4 separate regions of the Homo sapiens genome follow, and regions 1, 2 and 3 are each reported to be linked to region 4. Evidence: microRNA targets listed by miRTarBase, many of them from high-throughput screens and not tested one by one. Region 4 holds a microRNA gene; each other region holds the end of a gene's coding sequence. Distances are between the middles of the regions.

Evidence for each region. Region 4 holds the annotated microRNA hsa-miR-454-3p (UAGUGCAAUAUUGCUUAUAGGGU, at 1,525-1,547, opposite strand). A microRNA usually pairs through its seed, bases 2 to 8, with sites in the 3' UTR of a target mRNA and lowers its output. Matches are read on the target gene's strand: a 7mer-m8 pairs with bases 2 to 8, a 7mer-A1 pairs with bases 2 to 7 and ends in A, and an 8mer does both.
Region 1: the mRNA of SEC23B is a reported target of hsa-miR-454-3p. Seed matches in the 3' UTR shown: 8mer at 3,419-3,426.
Region 2: the mRNA of CYB5D1 is a reported target of hsa-miR-454-3p. The part of its 3' UTR that is shown has no 7-base or 8-base seed match.
Region 3: the mRNA of PRKCSH is a reported target of hsa-miR-454-3p. The part of its 3' UTR that is shown has no 7-base or 8-base seed match.

What each region holds. Positions count from the first base shown.
Region 1 is chr20:18,560,231-18,564,338 of GRCh38, reverse strand. SEC23B (SEC23 homolog B, COPII component) reads right to left here. Exons shown (of 20, transcript NM_006363.6): 20 at 2,924-3,688. The coding sequence ends at 3,599. Among named protein-coding and RNA genes, the nearest start is that of SMIM26, 5.1 kb to the left of the region's middle.
Region 2 is chr17:7,859,328-7,863,435 of GRCh38, reverse strand. CYB5D1 (cytochrome b5 domain containing 1) reads right to left here. Exons shown (of 4, transcript NM_144607.6): 4 at 1,154-4,054. The coding sequence ends at 3,824. It also overlaps a transcript of NAA38 not described here. Among named protein-coding and RNA genes, the nearest start is that of CYB5D1, 3.4 kb to the right of the region's middle.
Region 3 is chr19:11,449,117-11,453,224 of GRCh38, reverse strand. PRKCSH (PRKCSH beta subunit of glucosidase II) reads right to left here. Exons shown (of 18, transcript NM_001289104.2): 16 at 4,050-4,108; 17 at 3,797-3,959; 18 at 2,257-2,579. The coding sequence ends at 3,813. ELAVL3 (ELAV like RNA binding protein 3) reads left to right here. Exons shown (of 7, transcript NM_001420.4): 7 at 1-1,899. Among named protein-coding and RNA genes, the nearest start is that of PRKCSH, 16 kb to the right of the region's middle. RefSeq lists enhancers at 219-989, 914-1,033, 1,064-1,113.
Region 4 is chr17:59,136,263-59,140,262 of GRCh38, forward strand. MIR454 (microRNA 454) reads right to left here and starts at 1,610; the gene lies at 1,496-1,610. All of the region lies in intron 1 of SKA2 (spindle and kinetochore associated complex subunit 2), which reads right to left.

The DNA of each region.
Region 1 (4,108 bases), not on the chromosome of region 4:
GCAGAGTTAGCTGGGTCTATCACACAGTCTTTTTTCTGTTAATTTGAAACAGAAAAGCCAAAGAGGATGTTTTGGCCTTAATCTGTACAGACAACTTTATGTATTCTTCTATATGATGTGTTAAAAATTATATCCAAAACTAAAAATATTCTTGGAAAACGCACAGAAAAATGTAAATGTTCAACTTTTTTTTTTTTTTTTTTTTTTGAGATGAAGTCTCCCTCTGTCACCCAGGCTGGAGTATAGTGGCGTGACCTCAGCTCACTGCAACCTCCACCTCCGAGGTTCAAGTGATTCTCCTGCCTCAGCTTCCCAAGTAGCTGGGATTACAGGTGCCCACCACCACTCCTGGCTAATTTTTTAATATTTTTAGTAGAGATGGGGTTTCACCATGTTGGCCAGGCTGGTTTTGAACTCCTGACCTCAAGTGATCTGCCCACCTCAGCCTCCCAAAGTGCTAGGATTACAGGTGTGAGCCACCGCACCTGGCCAATGTTCAACATTTTAAGATAGGAAACTCTGCTAGAATTCTGCTAGAATGTAGGGCAGAGACAAAAAGAAATACAATAACTTGTATTCGAATACAAATTCAAAACAGAGTATTGCAATCAATCCAGCTGTTCCAACATCCAATTAATAGGAGCTTCCAGCTTCATTTTCCTACATAGCACTCATTACCTTCTAATGTATCATTTACTTCATTTCTTTTTTGTTTTTTATTTTTTTGAGACGGAGTCTCGTTCTGTTGCCCAGGCTGGAGTGCAGTGGCACAATCTCACTGCAACCTCCATCTCCTGGGTTCAAACAATTTGTCCCTGCCTCAGCCTCCCAAGTAGCTGGGATTACAGGTGTGCACCACCATGCCTGGCTAATTTTTGTATTTTTAATAGAGAAAGGGTTTCGCCATGTTGGCCAGGCTGGTCTCAAACTCCTGACCTCAGGTGATCCGCCCACTTCGGCCTCCCAAAGTGCTGGGATTACAGGCATGAGCCACCACGCCCGGCCATATCATTTACTTCTAACATTGTTATTGTTGGTCTTCCCTAACTAACACATAAGCTCTATGAAAACAGGAATTTTTGTTTTATTGGCAGTATTCCCAATGCCTAGAAGACTACTCCATAGACAACAAGTACCGGATAGTTATTTGTTGAACGAATGAAAGAATGACTCCAAAGTTCTGAGATTATCTTGGGCCTATACTTTTTAGACCCAGTGGGTTAGTCTGTCTTTGGATCTCTGTAATGGAACACCCGAGACTGGGTAATTTATTTTAAAAAGAGGTTTACGGTTTATGCTTATGGCTTACGGTTCTGTAGGCTGTACAGGACGCATGGTGCCAGCATCTGCTTCTGGTGAAGGCCTCAGGAAGCTTACAATCAGGGCAGAAGGTGAAGAGGTAGCCCGATGTACCACATGGCAAGAACGAGAGGAAGAGGTGGGGGAGGTAACACTTTAAAAAAATTTTTTTTGAGACAGTCTCGCTCTGTCCCCCAGGGAGTGCAGTGGTGCGATCTCGGCTCACTGCAACCTCTGCCTCCTGGGTTCAAGCCATTCTCATGCCTCGGCCTCCTGAGTAGCTGGGATTACAGGCGCAAGCCACCACACCCGGCTAATTTTTGTATTTTTAGTAGAGATGGGGTTTCACCATGTTGGCCAGGCTGGTCTCAAACTCCTGACCTCAGGTGATCTGCCCGCCTCAGCCTCCCTAAGTGCTGGGATTATAGGCATGAGCCACTGTGCCCAGCCAACACACTTTTAAACAATCATACCTCATTTGAACCCAGGACAAGAACTCACTCATTTCTGTGAGGATGGCACCAAGCCATTCATGAAGGATCCAGCGGTATGACCCAAACTCCTCCTACCAGGCCCCACCTCCAATCCTGGGGATTACATTTCAATGACGGACTTGGAGGGGACAAATATCCAAACTATATTACCTGGCAAAGCTATAAAGTGTGAAGACAGAATAGATTTGCAGATATGCTAAGATGCAGTGAGTTCTCCCCAAGTACTCCTTTTAGTAAAAGTCATTTGAGATTGCAAAATGCCTTATGGAATAAAGGGAAGAGTGGAACTAACCCGAGATTCCAAACAGAAGAAATTCCTGGATGACAGTTGTGCAGTAGGTCAAAGTTATTGGCCCCCCTTAAAAGGGGACATCAGTGGCCTCCAAAGAAGAAAAAAATGGACTTCATTCAGTAGAATAGGCTAGAATTTCTTAGTAAATAGAAAGCAAAATATTTCTTCTCTCAGAAAGCAAACAAAATTTAGAAATTCTGGGGAAAACCACAGCAAATCTAAGAAATCATAATCCAAATAGGGATCAAACCAACATGCGGCATGATGGAATGTAAGAAAGTAACTCTGATTCTGTCCTTTGGAATGTTTTCCTACAAGTGACATAGGGACTGACTGGGACACTAGCACCCTAGAGAAAAATGTCATCCTACCTGGCTTGGACTGGAACAATATTTACATCATCACGGCTGTGTAAATGCTTCTTAGGAGCTTTCAGCTTTGACAATCAACTTAGTGACAAAAAATATGATAATAGGCCAGAATATAATCTCTTTTTTTTCCTGAAACAGGGTCTTGCTCTCCCACCCAGGCTGGAGTGCAGTGGCATGATGAGAGCCCACTGCAACCTTGAACTCCTGGGCTCAAGTGATCCTCCTGCCTTAGCCTCCCAAGTAGCTAGGACTACAGTCACACACCACCATGGCCCAGTAACTTTTAAAATTTTTTGTAGAGACAGTCTCGCTATGTTGCCCAGGCTGGTCTTAAACTCCTGGCCTCAAGTGAGTCTCCTGCATTGGCCTCCTAAATTTAGCACTGGGATTACAGGTGTGAGCCACTGTATCTGACCCAGAATATACATTTTACCAATCTTGATAATATAAAAATAAAAATACAAAAATGACCAAAGGTATATTAATATATTGATTCTTTGAAAATGAGAATTGAGACATGGGCTAAAATTAAATACATCAACAACAAAAATCTTGTAAGGAGAGGTTAAAAGCAGTTATCTTCAAAAAGTAGGTCTGAGTTTATAGAGTGGAGGTAACTTATTTGTTATGAGCTCTTTAGGATAAGGTATATTTGTTTCATTTTGATCCTGCATATACATTACTTTAATTATGAGAATTAGGTTCAGGAAACACCTCTTAAGGAAGTCACTTAAAACACATACACACTCACACAGAGACCTCAGGAAATCACATTTGTATTAGCAATATTTTAGCCAGTACTTTCTGCATCTAGATTTATTTCCTTTATGATCATTAAGATTCTCACCTAAACAAGCTGCCAAAATACATTACCTCTGATTTTATTTAGATTCTAAAAGTTAGGATACAAAAAGCACATAAACATCTACAAGTACCAAAACATTTATGACCTTATAATTTTATAGTGCAAGAAAAAGGACAAAGACAGGAATACAAATAAATTATAATCTAAAGAGTTACATATAAAATGTCCTTGATTATTTGTTAAAATCTGCTAGAAAAGTAACAGGAATGTTATCAAGCCTTTCTAGACATTTTGAACACAATCTGACACCGTTGCATTTCCTGGTTGTATCCTCAGCTTAACAGGCACTGGAGACAGCCAGCTTCTTCAAATGGTCCATGAACACCTGCAGGCTAACATCATCAGTTAGGATGGGTGCTCCAGTTTCCTGAAATGTAATGATAAAGATTAGTTGGCAGATATCTTAGAAGCTGATTAGAATTCATGAGCTGTCAAGCACCTTCCCTCAGAACATTCACAGGTGTTGTCCCCTCTGCTACGAGTACTCCCATCACCCCATCCTCTGCCTCACGAACAACTTCTTTTGACTAAAGCACAATTTCCTCACAAAATCCTTTCCTGGTATGCCGAGATCAGGCCACCACCGCCTGCTAGTTTTGAGCATCAGGCGTTTTACTTTACCCTCTTCTCCATAGTCCTGATGAAGTACCCAGGGTCTAGCTCCCCACCACTGTGAGCTCACGGAGGCCCATATGCCTGCCTTTCCTCTTAAGTGCTCTGCTTACCACAGAAGCTGGATAATGGTGTACCCACAAACGAGTGAACTGGTATCTCCACTGAACAGATG
Region 2 (4,108 bases), 51 Mb from region 4:
ACCTGTGGGAAATCTTGCCAGTTGAGTCCTTTGAAGCTGCTGTGATTCACTGAGGACGGCAGCCTTCCCTTCAGCATTCCATCCTTCACCCACCACCCTCTAACACAAAAGAGATTACCACAAGAGGACTTGGACCCTACACTCATGTTCTGTTTGCTTTCTGGGTTTTAGGCTAAAGCATTATTTACATACTCCTCATGCAAATATCCACTTGGCTATTTAGAGAACAAAGCAGTGCCTACTGGAAAGATTTTTTTTAAGTATTAATAAGTGAATGCATTCTATTATTTTAAAAATTTGTGATGTCTTTATCCCTTTGTCAGCTCCATACTTTGCCCCATACACTCCCATACCTGTAATCAGGACCTCCTTTTTGTTCTAGCCCATGAATTCCTAACTGCACTCCTTTCCTGCCATGTGCTTGTGAGAGAAAAAAAAGCAGGCATAAACCTAATGCTAATAGAACGGTGGCCATGTGGTTTTTCCTTGTTTTCTTGTCCTTCCCTCCCCCTTATAAATCTCCAAAGGCCACCTTCCCATCCTAACTTTGGAAGGGTTTTCCCTCCAGGCTTGTCTCCCTGACTCTATAGGTAATTACAGCCACCTGGTGGCCATATGGGGAAATGACAGATGGATTGGCCCCCAAAAATCTGGTGAGACCCTCTTTTTTTTTTTTAACTTTTTTTTTTTTTTTTTTAGATGGAGTTTCGTTCTTGTTGCCCAGGCTGGAGTGCAATGGCACTATCTCAGCTCAATGCAACCTCCATCTCCCGGGTTCAAGCGATTCTCCTGCCTCAGCCTCCCAAGTAGCTGGGATTATAGGTGTGTGCCACCACGCCCGGCTAATTTTTTGGATTTTTAGTAGAAACAGGCTTTTGCCAGGTTGGCCAGGCTGGTCTTGAACTCCTGACCTCAGGTGATCCCCATGCCTCGGCCTCCCAAAGTTCTGGGATTACAGGCGTGAGTCACTGCACCTGGCCAGAGACCCTCTATGGAATAACTTTTGGTTTTGGATATTGGGGAAGCAAGGAAAGTGAATCCTATGGATAGAGACTATAGCACAGGAACCAGACATCCTATTTCTTGGTCCTTCCTTGCCTACTAGGACACAACATCCCCCCCACTAGGTATAGACGGATGAGTTCACTTAACATTGGAGTTCATTCAAAATTTATTGAGCTGCAACTGTGTGCTCAGCAATGAGAATATAGCAGTGAGCAAGATGTGAACAAGATCTCTGCCCTCGTGAGCTTACAATCTAGCAGCGCAGCCAGCCTATTACAGCCATAATTTTACAATTGTAATAAAAACTCTGGAAAATGCATGGTGCTAACTGATTTATCAGAAAGTCTTGACCCACCAAGAAATCAGAAAAGACCTCCCTGAGGAAGGAACATTTAGGATCAGCTAGGTGGAAAGTGAAAGGAAGAGTGTTGCAGGCAGAGAGGACAGTGTGTGAGGGTCTGAGGCAAGACATGTAATGAACTGAAAGCCAGTGTGTCTAGGCCATAGAGAACAAAGAGGGGTGTTGCGAGATGAGCCTGATTTATACAAGATCTTTGAATTTAGGACTTTATTCCAAAAGCAGTTGGAAGCCACTGAAGAAGCTAAGGAAAGTTCGATGTTTAGGTTTGTTTTTCATAGCTGACTCTCATTGCAGCATGGAAGTCAGAAGTGGAAATGGGAGAACAGGTTAGGAAGTTTCCGTAGCAGTTTAGACAAGAGGTGATGGTAACTTGGAGAAAAGAAGATAGGTTCCAGAGATATTTAGGAGACAGATTACACTTGATGAGTGACTGGATGTGTGAGGAAAGGGATGTGTTTCTAGCAAGAGACATTGAAGTAGGAGTCTCTGGAAGAGGGACAGGTTTTGGCAGAATGGGGACATCCTGTAGGCACAGGACAGGCCCTGAGGCTTGCACTAGAGGAACAGCATAGCTTTCATTCTCAAATAGTTCAGGGTTTAATTGAGCAAACAAGGTACACATAATTGCAGAGTTGATTAAAGATCAAAATGATCGATTTAGATAATTCATGGACTCCTGCATTCCATGGGGTTAGATTTAAACCCTCCATCTCACAGTAAATTCAGATACTGCCGAAGCCAACAGCAATGTTTCCACCTTTGTTCATGCCTCCCAAAGCCCCTCAGAAAATGCCTATATAGCCCACCAGTATCTCACAGGGGCCACCTTCTCCTGTGCTGGGCCCTGGTGTCCCCTGCCAGAAGACACACTAAACTCTTCCTGATTTGTTTTTTGCTTGCTGCTGCCAGGAAGTTCAACTGTCTGTCATTCTCAAATCTCCCCTCCTTAAGTTAAAGGAGACCAAATCTAGCCATTACCCCCAATAGTGGTTCTCTTTTGGTCACCAGGAGAGTTTTCTGACTTAGTTAGCATCTCTGTTTACATTACCCCTGTCGAGCTCCCTCTTTTGGAGTCACCGTCTTGCAACCCTGTCTTCCTCATCTTCTCCAAGTGGCAAACTGCCTCCTTTTTCTCCCTCGCCAAAGTGTCACTAATTTGCCGGCCTTTTCCCCACTCTAGTTTTCCTTCAAGTTAGTAAATACCCACCTCTTTGCCCCAAAAGGTCAGGAGAGAAATCTGGGGTATGGGATTAACAAAGAAGTAGCCCCAATAGCTATTGCTTAACTGACACTTAGCCTTCCTTGCCTCCTCTTCGCCACAGGAGAACTCTGCAAACTCCCTTCCAGAGACAATAACTGCAAACTATACAATAGGACCACAATTTCCTATTGTGCAGGGATCCTAGGACAAAGCCACATCCCAAATACTTGCTGAGAGCAGTGGCTACAAATGTTAACATGAGATTAGACATTGAGATGGTCCCTTTATATTGAGAGAACATGGACTTTGGAGTTGGGCAGACTTGAATTTGCATTCTGGCTCTAGTGGTTACTACCTAGTGTGGCTTTGAGCTATTAAACTTTCCAAAGTTTCGAAGGACTTATCTGTAACATAGTAATGGTAATCCACCTTATGGGGTAGTTGTCTTGAAGAGGCTATTTGGGAGGCTGAGGCAAGAGGATCACTTGAGGCCAGGAGGTTGAAACCAGCCTGGGCAACACAGCGAGACCCTGTGTCTACAAAAAATTAAAAAATTAGGCATTGTGGCGTGCACCTGAAGTCCCAGCTACTCAAGGCAGAGATGGGAGGATCACTTGTGCCCAGGAGCTCCAGGCTGCAGTGAGCCATGATTTTGCCACTGCACTCCAGACTGGGTGACAGAGCAAGACCCCTTCTCTTTGTTGGGGGCAAAAAAAAAAAAGAGGGTATATGAAGTACCTAGTATAATATCTAGCCTGAATTGCCTATAATGACGCACTTCCTTTCTTTCCCTTGGGTTTCAGCTGCCAAACACTCTTCTACAAGTAAGATAAGCCAGCTTTGTATGGTCAATGATAAACATTTCCTATTTCTTTGTAAATCCCATCTTCCTGCAGACATCTCATTTCCATCATTGCCAAAAAAGTCCTTCCATCCCTCACCCCTGTAGAACTACTCTCTCTTAACTATCAAACAGTTCTGCCTGAACTCTGACTATCCTCTTCTACATCTCCCTAAACCAAGGTACTTGATCTTCTTGTATCATTCCCAAAGATTAATTCACTAATTTTCTCAGAGCAAACTGTAATGAAGGCAGGGAATAGGGCCTTTACACTTCAGAAGGGCACAGGCTAGCTCCTGGAGAGGAGTGGAGATCTGGGTCCAGGCACCCCTCGGCCCCACCACTTTTCCTCAAGGCACAGAAAAAGCCAAACTCGAAATACGTCTTGAGTCTACACGAGTGTACATCTCCTTGCCTACAACTCCGTGAGATCATCATTGAAGTACAGAAGTATTGCAGGTGTGTGAAGTGTACCGTCCATACTGAGATAGTCAAATTCTTCCTCCTCATCCCGGATCCCATTCTCTTCCAGGGTAAAATCCATGTTCAGGTTCTTCCCTTCATATTTCCACGTGTAGCTGGCAGCATGTGAGTTATAGGGGAGATAGCGGTGTAGGATTTCCCATATGGACTCCAGAACCCCCACCTGGAGAACACAGAAGCACCCCACCCCCAGAATTCTGGATGGAGTATACATATA
Region 3 (4,108 bases), not on the chromosome of region 4:
GTCACGGTGGGCTGGAGGCAGCCCCCCCCCCCACAACACTTGAGGCCAAAGGACACCCCTGTCCCCGGGGCTCAGCCTCCCCCTGGGCCGAGGCCTTGGCCCACACAGCTGAGGGAGAGGCCCAGCCCTGAGCCTCCCCCACCAGGACTGGGCCTCCCCGGCAGCAAGACCCCGGCACTCCCCGCCAGGCCCAGGGTGGGGTGGATGGGCCCAAAGGCCCAGCCCCACACTCCTTTCCCGTCCACTTGTCACCTACCTATCCCCTTTCGGTTTGTTGGGTTTTTCGTCTTTCCAGATTGCAGTGGACACAGCCCCCGATCTCGAGCCCCGGCCCCCGGCTTCTGTCTGGACATTGCATCGCCCTAGTTTTCTTTCTTTAAAAAAAAAAAATTCCAACAGAAGCCACAGGCCGGAGCCCCTGGGAGCCCTCGCACCGCTCCCCACCCCACTCAGCGGCCCCATCGGAACTGAGAATTGCAAAACCCCCGACTTTAGCTATAGTTAAGTTGCCTTCCCCCGGTGTCCCCACGTTTGGTGTCTGGCTATGGCGCCCCCATCTGACTGTCCAGCTCTCTCTCCCCCACCCCTCCCGGTGTTGTTATTAAACGTCTGTGGAGCTTCTGCTGCAAGGAACAAAAAAGAAAAAAATCAAAAAAGCGACAAAAAAACACAAACAGAAGAGGAAAAAAAAGCAACAAAAAAAGAAAACACACAGAAGAGATTTAAAAAAAAAAAAGGAAAAAAAAAAAAGACATAAACTGGCACCAGTTAACTTTCTTGTACTTTTTTGCTGAATTTAGCTTCTTGTAGTTTTAACTTATTGCTATGTTAACTATTTATTCTCCTCGTTGCCCTGTAAGGACATCCGTGTATATTTCTGTTACTTCATCCGGTTTGCAAGTTAAAGGAACGACAATGTTCTCTTTGTTTCTTTAAGTTTTGCCGAGACATGGTTATGCCTAATTTATTTATAAAAGGGGAAGTGGAATCATTAAAGTAATAATAATTATTAATAACAGTAATGGTAGCCGAGTGGCACGCGGGGGCGTGTGCTCTGCGGGACAGTCCCCACGGCCAGCGACGTCCAGGTCACCAATGGGATTCTTTTTGCTCTTGTCTTGAGAATTTTTTCAGTCCTATTTAGCTGGTGAAATCCCTAGCTTGTTCTTGATACACGAACCTATTTATTCTCGTGGTTTTAAGTCCTCCCTGCCCTCTCTCCTCTCCCCTGCAGCAGGGCAGGGACCCCTCTCCCCTGCTGTCTCTTGGGGCTCTCTCCCCTCCGCCCTCTGCATTCGGGAACACGCACGTCCGCGTGGGAAGCTTGCAGCAGGGCGTCCGAGCAATAAGGGCTGGGTTTGTCCCCCACCCTGGGGGGGGCCAGGCTCCAGAGAGGGGGCACCTCCCCACACACCCCCCCCCCACCGAGGCCTAGGCCCCTGCCACCCCCAAGACTGGGAGGGGACTTCTTTTTCTAAAACACAAAACTCAGCCCAGCCAGGCCCCCTCCCTGGAGGCCAGCCCCTCCCCGCAGGGGGCCAGGCCGGGGCTCCCAGGCGAGGGGGACTTGGGGCTTCCACGTCCCTGGGGGGCAGGGGCCAGGCCAGGGGGGAGGGGGCTCAGCCCCTCCACCCCTCCCTTCATCCTGTTATTTATTCGGAAGGTTTCAAATCACGACAGAGTCCATGTTGGAGGTGATAAAAAACTGTAAAAAAAAAAAAAAAAAAAAAGACAAAACAAAAGACAAAAAAAAAAAAAAAACCCAACAAGAACACTTCGCGTTGCGTTTAGACTATTTATTACCGGGATCACAGGCCTGGCCGCGGTAACAGACTTTTACATGGAATTGTTTAATTATTTGTACTTTTCATGCCAGAAAATAAAAGTTCAGAATCTTAAGGCCTTGGGTGATCTCTGCACCGCTGCGCGGGGAGCACGCAGGAGCAGCCTGTGTAGTAGCGCCCAGGCCCCCGTCCTTCTCTGGGCCTGGGTCTGTCTGCAGCAGGGGCTTTGGCCCCGGGAGGGAACCCTTGGCCTCCACAGAGCACAGATGAGACCCAGGGAAGGTGGGACACGGGCCCGGATGGATGCTCAAGACAGAAATGGTCCAGGGTCCATCCACCTGGTATCTTCAGGAGTGATCCCCAGATGGTGGGGGAGGCCCGGGTGGGATCTGCAGAAAGCTGCGTCCCCTGCGCTCAACCCCTGCCCACACCCCGGTCCACACCCCAGCAAAGCGAGGCAGACACAGACAAGTTTGGGTGGGGGATCACATTTATTGTATTGAGGTCACAGGTCAAGTCATTCACTAGTCCCCACTAGGAGGGGTGGCAGGGACAGGGCTGGGGGTGGTGGGGCGAGTCACCAAGGTGGGGGGCCCAGGGAGGGCAAGCTCCTTTACCCATCTTTGAAGGCTGTTGGGGCCTGGGAATGTGGACCAGCCCCGCCTGGGCCCCAGAGCAGGGCACGAAGCCCCACAAAGGTCCTGCCGCCACAGAGGAGGGCAACAGAGCCACAGGCAGGCCCAGAGGGGCGGGTGGACGGCACTGCAGGGGCTGGCTTCATGCCTTCTTGAGGTTCTGGGGCAAGAGAAAGACCAGATTAGAAAGCTGGGGACAGCTGGACATGGTGATGTTTGCCTGTAGTCCCGGCTGCTTGGGAGGCTGAGGTGGGAGGATCATTTGAGGCCAGGAGTTGACCAGCCTGGAGACCTTGTCTATTTTCTCTTATTATTATTATTTTTTTTTTTTGAGAGTCTCACTCTGTAGCCCAGGCTGGAGAGTGCAGTAGCATGATCTTGGCTCACTCCAACCTCTACCTCCTGGGTTCAAGTGATTCTTGTGCTTCAGCCTCTTGAGCAGCTGGAACTACAGGCACCTACCACCACACCCAGCTAATTTTTTTGTATTTTTAGTAGAGATGGGGTTTTACACCATGTTGGTCAGGCTGGTCTCAACCTCCTGACCTCAAGTGATCCGCCCACCTCAGCCTCCCAAAGTGCTGGGATTACAGATGTGAGCCACGACGCCTGGCCTATTTAGTTTCAAAAGTAAAAAAATCTTTTTTTAAAAAGCAGGGGATGGCCAGACATGGTAGCTCAAGCCTGTAATCCCAGCACTTTGGGAGGCTGAGGAGGGCGGATCACGAGGTCAGGAGATCGAGACCAACCTGGTTAACACAGGGAAACCCCATCTCTACTAAAAATACAAAAAAATTAGCCAGGCGTGGTGGCGGCGCCTGTAGTCCCAATTACTCAGGAGGCTGAGGCAGGAGAATTGCTTGCACCCAGGAGGTGGAGGTTGCAGTGAGCCGAGATCGCGCCATTGCATTCCACATTCCAGCCTCGGCAACAAGAGTGAAACTCCATCCAAAAAAAAAAAGGCAGGAGATGGCCGGGTGTGGTGGCTCATGCCTGTAATCCCAGCACTTTGGGAGGCCAAGGCAGGTGGATCATCTGAGGTCAGGAGTTCGAGACCATCCAGGCCAACATGGTGAAACCCCATCTCTACTAAAAATTAGCCAGGCATGGTGGTGCACACCTGTAATCCCAGCTACTTGGGAGGCTGAGACAAGACAATTGTTTGAACCCGGGAGGTAGAGGTTGCAGTCAGCTGAGGTCGCATCACTGCACTCCAGCCTGGGCCAAAGAGTGAGACTCCACCTCAAAAAAACAAAACAAAAAAGCAGGGAACATGGGGACACAGGTTGATAGAGTGGCCATGTGGGTCCATCTTCCTCAGGGCCCGCCGCCTCCCCTTGCTGGGGCAGGCCGACGAGACTCCACCTCCCCGCCCACCTCTGCGCCCATCCAGCTAGAGCTCGTCATGGTCGTCTTCGGTGGGTGCTTCAGGCGGTGGCTCCGGGCAGGCGGCTGGCGTCATCAGCTCCATGAGGTACTCGCAGCGACTGGGCTCTGTGGTGCTGGTCACCATGGTCTCTTTCCCGCACAGGAGGCGCACCTGGGGATGGGCAGACGGGTGCTCGAGAGGGTTCGGCTGGGCCAGGCCTGGGTCTCCCCGCCCCAGCTCCCCTGCCTTGCAGGCACTCACGGTGGTGGAGCGGTTGGGGCCCTGCCAGCAGCCCGTGCCTTGCTCATACTTCATGGCAC
Region 4 (4,000 bases):
AGAGATTCTCCTGCCTCAGCCTCCCAAGTAGCTGGGATTACAGGCGCCTGCCACCATGCCTGGCTCATTTTTTGTATTTTTAGTAGAGACGGGGTATCACCATGTTGGGCAGGCTGGTCTCGAACTCCTGACCTCAGGTGATCCACCCACCTCGGCCTCCCAAAGTACTAGGATTACAGGTGTGAACCACTGTGCCTGGCCAGTACTGGCTTATTAGTGAAGTCAGTGGGCTAGGGAATAAGCAGGGGGCAAAAAGGATGCCAAAATGTTGAAAGATAGAAAAATAAGCTTTTTTTTTTTTGTTTGAGACGGAGTCTCACTCTGTTGCCAGGCTGGAGTGCAGTGGCACAATCTTGGCTGACTGCAACCTCCACTTCCCGGGTTCAAGCGATTCTCCTGCCTCATCCTCCCGAGCGGATGGGACTATAGGCGTGCACCACCATACCCAGCTAAGTTTTGTATTTTTAGTACAGACAGGGTTTCACCATGTTGGCCAGGCTCGTCTTGATCTCCTGACCTTGTGATCCGCCCTCCTCGGCCTCCAAAAATGCTGGGATTACAGGTGTGAGCTACCACGCCCAGCCGAAAAATCATCTTAAATGTCTGCTCTGAACCCTTCATTTTATAAATGAGAAAATAGCAAAGTAACTTGCCTCTAGTTCTATTTCCATTACTGTTTTCTTATGTAGTTAGACAAAGTTATAGATGATATTTAAGCCATTAAGAGTCACACATGTGGAAAAAATGTAAATTCTTTTTTTTCTTTTTGAGACAGGGTCTTGCTTTGTTGCCCAGGCGAGTGCAGTGGCACAAATCACAGCTCACTGCAGCCTCAACCTCCTGGACTCAAGAGATTTGATTCTCCTGCCTAAGCCTCCTGAGTAGCTGGGACTACAGACGTGCACTACCAAACCCAGCTAATTTTTGTATTTTTTTGTAGAGACAAGGTCTCGCTATGTTACCCAGGCTGGACTTGAACTCCTGAGCTCAAACAATCTTCCCGCCTTAGCCTCTCAAAGTGCTGGAACTACAGGTGTCAGCCACCACACCCATCCAAAAATGTACATTCTTCACCTAAAATTAAAGTTTTTTTATGTTTTAAATTAATATCACTAAAGTTACAAAGCTAGTCAACTAAAAATTCCCTCTGAACACAACATGGTAGTATGGTACAGAAAAATAAAAGAATTCGGATACATGGTAGAAATTCTAGTCCTAGTATCACTAACCAGCTATGTGTCCCTAGGTTAAGTCCCTCATTTCTTTGGGTCTCTCCTATCAAATGAGTTGGAATCTAAGATCCTTTTCAATACTAAAATTCCATTATTTCTTTATACTACAAATAAACCCATTTGTCAAAAAGAAAAGTTACCTTCTTCTAATAAATTAAAAATTTACATTTAAGCCTCAGATTTTAATGTTTATAGTGAAATCTAGTTCCTTGTTTTCTTCCTAAAGATGACTTTTGCTTGTTTCTGCTACATACTTTCTGCAGCCTGCCCATTGTTCTTTCCAAACACCAAAACCCTATAAGCAATATTGCACTACTCAGAACTATTTACACAGCAGAGACAATATTGATAGGGTTCTAGGATCTGGTGATAAACAGAATTTTTTTTAGTTAGATGGCAGAAATTCACTAAGCAATTATGATAATCTAAAACTCATTAGTGTCTGATAAATCGCGCAAATTTGATTCTGATAAACATCATTCACAGCCCTTTCAGTTACAAATCAGCCTCCTGGAAGCCTTGGAAATCAGTGAGGTTATTGTTTAACTTTTTAGGGGCAATGGAATATTTAAAATAAAACTAGTGATTTTTGTAAAGCCCAAGATATTCGTATTTCAGAAACCAGTTTTCTCTAAAATCAGTAATAAAAATAAAGGGGAAAAGTTTTATACTGATCTGAAAAGTGGTATATAAAATACAAAATTAGGTGAAAAAAGTCTATGGAAATCATCATGAAAGCACCCCAAGGGAAACCAGGTTACATTCTGCCAGTTAGATTTCTGATTTTTTCCTCCTATTTTGGAATATTTGCATAATAATTACTGGTTGAGCATCCCTAATCTGAAAATTCAAAATCTGAAATGGTCCAATGAATTTTGGATTTTGGAGCATTTCAGATTTTGGAATTTTGGATTAGGGATGCTCAACCAGTTGTTTTGTTTGTTTGTTATTTTTTGAGACAGCGTCTCACTCTGTTGCCTAGGCTGGAGGGCAGTGGCGCAATCTCAGCTCACTGCAACCTCTGCCTCCAGGCTCAAGCAATTCTCATGCCTCAGCCTCCCGACTAGCTGGGACTACAGGCACACGCCACAACGCCTAGTAAATTTTTTGTATTTTTGGTAGAGATGGGGTTTCACCATTTTGCCCAGACTAGTCTTGACCTCCCGAGCTCAAGTGATCTGCCCGCCTCGGCCTCCTGAAGTGCTGGGATTACAGGCATGAGCCACCGCGCCCAGCCTGTTCTAGTCTAGTTTTCAATATGACCAGTTTAAGGCTTTAAGTAAGTGGCACAAGGTATTCCATACTACTCAACTATTAGGCAGCAAGGAGAAAAGAATATATTGCGGTTGTCACAATATACTGTGTGGTCCTCAGTTTTAAAACACTTGCTTTTTACAAACAACCCCTAGATTCTCATTGCCACCGTATGCTCTCCTACAAAGGACCAGTGCCCTTAAAGCTCTAAACACATCCTCTTATGAGAGACCTTATCTCAACAGCATTAAATTACATAAAGTGAAAAAAAGTATTTCAGTCTCACCTATGGTGGGCTAGGCATAGAGAAGAGTTGGTAGACAGGTGTGTTCTGGACTTACTAAACAGGCTTAGAAATGCATTTTCCGGCTGGGCGCAGTGGCTCACGCCTGTAATCCCAGCACTTTGGGAGGCTGAGGCGGGCGGAGCACGAGGTCAGGAGATTGAGACCATCCTGGCTAACACGGTGAAACCCCGTCTCTACTAAAAATTCAAAAAATTAGCTGGGCATGGTGGTGGATGCCTATAGTTCCAGATACTCGGGAGGCTGGAGCAGGAGAATGGCATAAACCTGGGAGGCAGAGGTTGCAGAGAGCCGAGATGGCGCCACTGCACTCCAGCCTGGGCAACAGAGCAAGACTCCGTCTCAAAAAAAAAAAAAAAAAAAAAAGAAATGCATTTTCCATAGAAACATTTTAAGGGAGAATTAAGTATCTTAATGGAACTAGTTTGGCTATAATCAAAAAACCTACTTTTATTTTTATTTTTAAATTTTTTTTGTTTTTGAGATGAGTGCTCACTATGTTGCCCAGGCTAGTCTCGAAATCCTGAGCTCACGTAATCTGCCCGCCTTGGCCTCCCAAAGTGCTAGGATTACAGGTGTCAGCCACTGCACCCGGCCAGAATCTACTTTTTGTACATTTTCTTCTCTTCAATGTACATTTAGAAACACCTTTATCTACTCTCCTTTTACTTTGTTCATGGCTTTGGTTTACCATCTACTGTATTATATTTTAATCTATGTTTACATGGTAATGTCGCCACATGGTTTCAAACATCTTCCTGGCAAGAGATCGCTTTTTTGTATCCTTAGTTTTTAATATACAGCCTAATGTGCAGTGACAAAAGGGAATAGATGAAAGAACAAACATTCATTCATTTGAAAGAACAAACCACCTGGGAACCCAACTACCCTTTAAAACACGTTTTAAGGGAAATATTTCAAGTTCCCAGCAAGCTAAGGACCACTTATATCATGTCTCCACAATCAAAATTGGTTTTTGCCTTTTTCTGCTGGAGAAAGTATTGACTATTACCCATTCTCTCTTCCAAACAGAACAAATGCATGACTATGCTTGTCCAAAACAGATAAGCAGTAACATGCCCTAACACCAGGTCACAGACATGTTATTTCAGGCAATTGGCAACCAGAGGGGATAAAAGTGAGCAAGGGCTTCAGGTTCATCAGTTCCCAATCTGCAAGCTTTTTTTTTTTTTTGAGATGAAGTCTCGCT